Linked DNA regions of Homo sapiens. The protein of the gene in region 2 purifies or fractionates together with the protein of the main gene of each other region. This does not show direct contact. Each region holds a gene or a part of one and is shown on either strand. Other genes may lie near its edges.

The links. Proteins that work in one complex are often made in the same cells at the same time.
Region 1: the proteins of IARS2 (region 2) and ESPL1 purify together in Homo sapiens (affinity purification with mass spectrometry; 2 studies listed by BioGRID and IntAct, with this or other methods). This does not show direct contact.

Annotation. Positions count from the first base shown.
Region 1 is NC_000012.12:53,278,182-53,281,832, forward strand, and holds part of ESPL1 (separin), read left to right. Parts: intron 1-1,550; coding exon 1,551-1,685; intron 1,686-3,325; coding exon 3,326-3,445; intron 3,446-3,651. UniProt on the Homo sapiens protein: Caspase-like protease, which plays a central role in the chromosome segregation by cleaving the SCC1/RAD21 subunit of the cohesin complex at the onset of anaphase. During most of the cell cycle, it is inactivated by different mechanisms.
Region 2 is NC_000001.11:220,100,612-220,104,262, forward strand, and holds part of IARS2 (isoleucine--tRNA ligase, mitochondrial precursor), read left to right. Parts: coding exon 1-38; intron 39-1,517; coding exon 1,518-1,666; intron 1,667-1,751; coding exon 1,752-1,801; intron 1,802-1,883; coding exon 1,884-1,993; intron 1,994-2,075; coding exon 2,076-2,166; intron 2,167-2,835; coding exon 2,836-2,951; intron 2,952-3,651.

The DNA of each region.
Region 1 (3,651 bases), on a different chromosome or scaffold from region 2:
AAAATAGGGGCCATGCTACTGCCTCGTGGCGTTATTATTCAGTGCAGCAGTGCATGGAAGAGGTATTGTGTAAATGGTATGCTCAAATGTTAGCTTTAGTCTGGGCAACACGGCGAAACCCCGTCTCTACAAGAAATAAAAAAAATATAGCCCGGTGCGGTGGCATGTGCCTGTAATCCCAGCTACTCAGGTGGCTGAGGCAGGAGAATCCCTTGAGCCAGGAGGTAGAGGTTGCAGTGAGCCAAGATCGCGCCACTGCACTCCATCCTGGGGGACAGAGCAAGATGCTGTTTCACGCTATTTCATTAAAAAAAAAAAAGTTAGCTTTAATTATTAGATGATTTGTTACCTATCAGAAAAATACATAGATGCCTTTAGACACAATTTTACATTCTTACATTCTTATGTGTGCCTTCTTTTTTTTTTTCAAGATGGAGTCTCACTCTGTCGCCCAGGCTGGAGTGCAGTGGCGCAATCTGGGCTCACTGCAACTTCCGCCATCTGGGTTCAAGTGATTCTCCTGCCTCAGCCTCCTGAGTAGCTGGGACTACAGGCACGCAACCACGCCTGGCTACTTTTTTGTATTTTTAGTATAGACAGGGTTTCACCATATTGGCCAGGCCGGTCTCGATCTCCTCAGGTGATCCACCCGCCTCAGCCTCCCAAAGTGCTGGGATTACAGGCGTGAGCCACCGCACCCAGCTTTCCGCCCCGCCCCCCCGCCGAGATAGAGTCTTGCTCTGTTACCCAGGCTGGAGTGCAGTGGCGTGATCTCAGCTCACTGCAACCTCCACCTCCTGGGTTCAAGCGATTCTCCTGGCTCACTCAGCCTCCTGAGTAGCTGGGACTACAGGCGCATACCACCACACCCTGCTAATTTTGTATTATTGGTAGAGATGGGGTTTCACTATGTTGGCCAGGCTGATCTCGAACTCCTGATCTCAGGTGACCCGTCTGCCTCAGCCTTTCAAAGTGCTGGGGTTACAGGCATGAGCCACTGTGCCTGGCCTATAAGGCCATGTACATTCTTATTTCAGGGAGTTTCACAAAATTCCTGAAGCTCTACCCTAGACTCCACATTAGGAAACAAACAAACAAACAAAAAGCCTTTATACATGCTGTTAACTATGAGCTATTAAACCATATTTCTAGCAGGGGAAGCTACCTCAGCCCTAGATTTGAGACTTGGTTCTGCCACATACCTGTTATATGAACTTAGACAAGCAACTTAACCCATGTGAGTCTTAGCTTCCTGTACTGTAAAATTGGGATTAGACTTGTTATGAAGGTTAAATGCACTGATGCATGTAAGCCTGGGCACAGTGCCTGGCACATAGTAAGAACTCAGAAAATCCTGGCTATTGATGATGAATGGCATCTAGGCTTTAAAACAGTAGGGGTGGGGTGATGATTGCTTCATCTGGGTAACTACATTCCACCCAGGCCCTGAGGTCAAACTACAGTCCAAGGTCCCAAAGGGCTGGGGAGCAGAGGGTAGAAATAGAGGCTTGAGCAGGGGTGGAGTAAACTTGGCTGCTTCTGCTGACCAGCCCATGCAGGCTCTGGAGGTCCTCCTGCTGCTACGGATTGTCTCTGAGAGACTGAAGGACCACTCGAAGGCAGCTGGCTCCTCCTGCCACATCACCCAGCTCCTCCTGACCCTCGGCTGTCCCAGCTATGCCCAGGTGAGTGCCCAACCAGCCTAGTCTGGGGACTGCAGGGGGCCCGTAGCTTTAGAGGCCCACCTCTGAGAAGACAGGATATCAAAGGGGCAGCTTCTCGGCCTTTTACCACCACAACTGGCTGGAGAATTGTGGAGTGTGGAGCAGTTGGAGGCAGCTGTAAGAAGGGGAGTCATCTTTGTCCTTCCTGCAAAACCAGTTGTTCATTAAGTTTACAGACTGCTGCAGGAACCTACCGCCAGTCTTGTATTTCCTAACTGGTTCTGTTGCCCTAGTTGATGCTTCATTGCTCATGTAAAGCTATCACAGTGTCTCCTGGTTGGTCTCCTTGCCTCCAGTTTCTCCCTTTTCTACTTCGTCTTCTTAACGACCACTGGTAGGCACAGGTGTGATGTAATCTCTTTCCTGCTTAACCCTGTTCCCTTTTGCCCCAATAATACTTGCCAGCGCTTACGGCTGCAGTGTTTACCCCTGGATAACTTTGCCACAAAATATCTCACTCTTACTATTTTTGCATCACTCTAGTATATTGACTTTGGAAACAGAAGACATCATTCTGTTTATAGCATTCTGTTTTTAGTGGTGTCATTTCCATTTCCATTTCCATTTCCACTTCCACGTCACCCTCCCGAGTAACTGGGACTACAGGTACATGCCACCACACCTGGCTAATTTTTAAATGTTTTGTAGAGACAGAGTCTCACTATGTTGCCCAGGCTGGTCTTGAACTCCTGGGCTCAAGTGATCTCCCACCTCAGCCTCCCAAAGTACTGATAATACAGGCATGAGCCACCGTGCCCAGCTACTGCTTACTCTGTATATAGCTTTAATCTAAAAGTGGTTAACCAGGCTGAGCGCAGTGGCTCACACGTGTAATCCCAGCATTTTGGGAGGCTGAGGTGGGCAGATCACCTGAGGTCAGGAGTTGGAGACCAGCCTGACCAACATGGAGAAACCCCGTCTCTACTAAAAATACAAAATTAGCCAGGTATGGTGGCGCATGCCCGTAATCCCAGCTACCTGGGAGGCTGAGACAGGAGAGCACTTGATCCCGGGAGGCGGAGGTTGCGGTGAGCTGAGATCACACCATTGCACTCCAGCCTGGGCAACAAGAGCGAAACTCCGTCCTAAAAAAAAAAAAGTGGTTAACCAAGTGTTAAATGGACATTTTAGAGAGTGAATCAATAACTCCTATGCAGATTATAATATCTGAAATAATGTAATATTTATTGGACATGTTGAACATTTTGCTTGTAAATACTTTACTCCACTTTTTTTTTTTTTTTTTTTTTGAGACGGAGTCTCACTCTGTTGCCCAGGCTGGAGTGCAGTGGCGCGATCTCCATTCACTGCAACCTCTGCCTCTCGGGTTCAAGTGATTCTCATGCCTCAGCCTCCCGAGTAGCTGGGATTACAGGCGCGTGCCACCACACCTGGCTAATTTTTGTATTTTTAGTAGAGATGGGGGTGTCACCATGTTGGCCAGGCTGGTCTTGAACTCCTGACCTCAGGTGATCCGCCCACCTTGGCCTCCCAAAGTGCTGGGATTACAGGTGTGAGCCACATGGCCACCCTTATTTACTCCAGTTTTGTTTGAAGAGCCTGGCTGCCTTTCCTCATGTGCCCTCTGATTGCTTCCTTAGTTACACCTGGAAGAGGCAGCATCGAGCCTGAAGCATCTCGATCAGACTACTGACACATACCTGCTCCTTTCCCTGACCTGTGATCTGCTTCGAAGTCAACTCTACTGGACTCACCAGAAGGTATTTCTCACTTTCTTAAACTCCGAAGGCCCTGGGTATTAGAAAGAATTTAGGATTTTCTTGATATTTGCCTGGCTTTTGAGATTTCCCTGGAGCTAGGCAGTATGTTCCTGACCCTGAGAGGCAGGCATATTTCCTAGCCTTGCCCTCGCCAGCGATTTGCTCACCAGTCCTCCTCTGGTAGAGATACAGTCCTTTTCCTTCTT
Region 2 (3,651 bases):
AGCTCAGAATCTTTCAGCTATGGAAATTAGAAAGAAAGGTAAATAATCTGTATTTCTGTTTTAAAATGATATTTGTAAACACTCAGGTCCTTGAAATAGTCAGAACTTTACCAAAGGAACCTTTTGTTTGGGTTTCGTTTGCTTATAATAAGATCTATTGGAAACGCCTTTCTGTCACAGAAAATTCAGATTTTATTTCATTGATTTTTGTAAGAACTTATGTTTGGATATTGAAGGAAAGACTTTGTGAGCATTTCTGATTGCATTCTCAGTTTCTTAATGTTCATATTTTAAAAAACTATTTTTTGGTAAATTCTTTTTTCTGCTTTCCTCAAGGGGGCTTGTTGACTGATTTTAGGTGTTAAGCCAAAATTCAATTCTAAAATACATATATTTTACATTAATCTTTTATTTGATCCTTTTTCTTCAGTCGACTGGGCCAAGGGAGGATTCTCTTTTTCTTATATGTTATACTATTGTACATTTGGATGTAACTGTGAAGATTTTTTTACTTCCTTGTGAAACCTATTATCATTGGCTTAGATTTGATATTCTGATTAATTTTTTGTGTATAATGAAATGAAAATTGTTATCTGACCTTTTCTTAAATTAAGAAACAATAAGGAATAATTTTTCCAGTTTATTTGTCCTAAATATGAGGTCATTGTATAAAGTCTGGAAAATACAGAAGACAGTAATAAAATTTTAACTTTTGCAATTCCAGTTAATTTTAGAATTTGTTGTAGGTATCTTCTGAACACTGTTGACCTTCAAATTATTTTTCTATTAAAAAATTTTTATAGGCTGGGCACAGTGGCTCATGCCTGTAATCCTAGCACTTTGGGAGGCTGAGGGAGGTGGATCGATCACCTAAGGTCAGGAGTTTGAGACCAGCCTGGCCAACATGGCAAAACCCCGTATCTACTAAAAATACCAAATAATTAGCCAGGTATGGTGGCTCACGCCTGTAGTCCCAGATACTTGGGAGGCTGAGGCACGAGAATTGCTTGAACCTGTGTGGCAGAGGTTACAGTGAGCTGAGATCCGCCACTGCATGCCAACCTGGGCAACAGAGCAAGACTCCATCTCAAAAAAAAAAAATTTTGTGCTCGGGCGCCGTGGCTCACGCCTGTAATCCCAGCACTTTGGGAGGCTGAGGCGGGTAGATCACGAGGTCAGGAGATCCAGACCATCCTGGCTGACACAGTGAAACCCCGTCTCTACTAAAACTACAAAAAAATTAGCCGGGCGTGGTGGCGGGCGCCTGTAGTCCCAGCTACTCAGGAGGCTGAGGCAGGAGAATGGCGTGAACCCGGGAGGCAGAGGCTTGCAGTGAGCCGAGATCATGCCACTCGCGCCACTGCACTCTAGCCTGGGTGACAGCGAGACTGTGTCTCAAAAAAAATTTGCATTCTAAACTGTCTGTAGCATTTGCATTTAGAGAGATACATGCTAAACCATGTTTAAGAATTCGAATTCATTGGTTTTTTAAAATCTTTTTTTCGTCTTTTTTTTAGCTAGATCATTTGCTAAAGCAGCCATTGAGAAACAGAAATCAGCATTTATTCGTTGGGGAATAATGGCAGATTGGAATAATTGCTACTATACATTTGATGGGAAGTATGAAGCCAAACAGTTGAGAACTTTTTACCAAATGTATGATAAGGTAAAGAAGTATTTTTTCTCTTTGAGTAGGTTTTAGTATGCGTTACAAGATTCTACTTTTAACATCATATTTTTGTCTTTTATAGGGCTTGGTTTATCGATCTTACAAACCTGTGTTTTGGTCTCCGTCATCTAGGTATATATGCATTTTTCGGTAATTAAAAGGGAGAAATTTGTGAGGCTTCCAAGTATTTATGTTTAATATTTTTAACCCTTAGGACTGCATTGGCTGAAGCAGAACTTGAATATAATCCTGAGCATGTCAGTCGTTCAATATATGTAAAATTTCCTCTCTTAAAGCCTTCTCCAAAATTGGCATCTCTTATAGGTAAGATTTATTCATAGCTTGAGTGTACCAAAGTTATAGAATTATCCCATTTGCTAACATATTTACAATTGTATTTTCACAGATGGTTCATCTCCTGTTAGTATTTTGGTCTGGACCACACAACCTTGGACGATTCCAGCCAATGAAGCTGTTTGCTATATGCCTGAATCAAAGTGGGTATATTATTGCATTTTTTGTTTTATACACAAATAGAATGTATTCCATTATTAACATTATTTTGAATTTATTTTATCCTGTTTATTATTGTAAAATTTAATGAATTATAACTTAGTTATTATGTTCATATAGATTTTATTAACCTTTAGGTGATCCTTTTTATGACCTTATCCAGCTTTTCGGGAAAATGAAATAGAAGTATAAGTTACAAAGTGTTTTGAAAATAGTACAGTTTGATCTTGAAGTCAGTTTTTTCTTTTTTCTTTTTTTTTTTGGAGACCGAGTTTTGCCTTTTGTTGCCCAGGCTGGAGTACAGTGGCATGATCTTGGCTCACCACAACCTCCACCTCCCGGGTTCAAGCAATTTTCCTGCCTCAGCCTCCCGAGTAGCTGGGATTATGGGATTACAGGCATGCGCCACCACGCCAGGCTAATTTTGTATTTTTAGTAGAGATGGGGTTTCTCTATGTTGGTGAGGCTGGTTGCAAACTCCCAACCTCAGGTGATCCACCTGCCTTGGCCTCCCAAAGTGCTGGGATTATAGACATGAGCCACCGCGCTGGCCTGAAGTCAGTTTTTTCTAAAATGATTATTTAAAAATTAAAATGATATCTGTGGCTTTTCTTGTTTCATTATTAGTAATTTCTCCTAAAATTTTATGTTAGGTATGCTGTTGTGAAATGTTCTAAGTCTGGAGACCTCTACGTACTGGCGGCAGATAAAGTAGCATCTGTTGCTTCTACTTTGGAAACAACATTTGAGACTATTTCAACACTTTCAGGTGAAGATTTTTAGATATCTGACAACATAGTCATCAAAGTATTGGGCTGACTTGAATTTACTACTTTGCTGAACTGCATATTTTGAATTGAAACAGATATGGCCTCTACCTTTCTAGAATACATTTTACATTGATTACACTAAAGGAGAATATACATTAAGCATGATAGGAGTATAGAAAAATATGAATATTGATAAATGTACAACAGGTAAAACTAATTTCTGGCAATATCCAGTAGTTACTTGGTAAAATTTTATGCAAAATTAATTTTTAAAATTGTTTTTATCTGTTTTAATAAAAGTAGCAAGAAAGGAAATGCATATACTTATTTTTCGATACATAATTTTAATAAAGGATTGAATAAGTTCTGAAAATTATTCAGAAAGCAGTTCTTCTATCAAAGGAATTTTATTTTATTTTATTTTTTAAAGAGACAGGGTCTCATGCTGTTGCCCACTGCTGGAATGCAGTGGTCCAGTCAGCTCATTGCAGCCTCAAACTCCCGGGCTCAAGCAATCCTCCTGCCCTGGCCACCCAAGTAGCTGGGACTATAGGCACATGCCACTGCACCCGGCTAATTTTGAAAAAATATTTTACAGAGATGAATTCTTGTTGTGTAGCCCAGACTGGTCTGGAATTCCTGGGCTCAAGTGATCTGCCTGCCTTGGCCTGCCAAAGTGCTGGGATTAAAGGCGTAAGC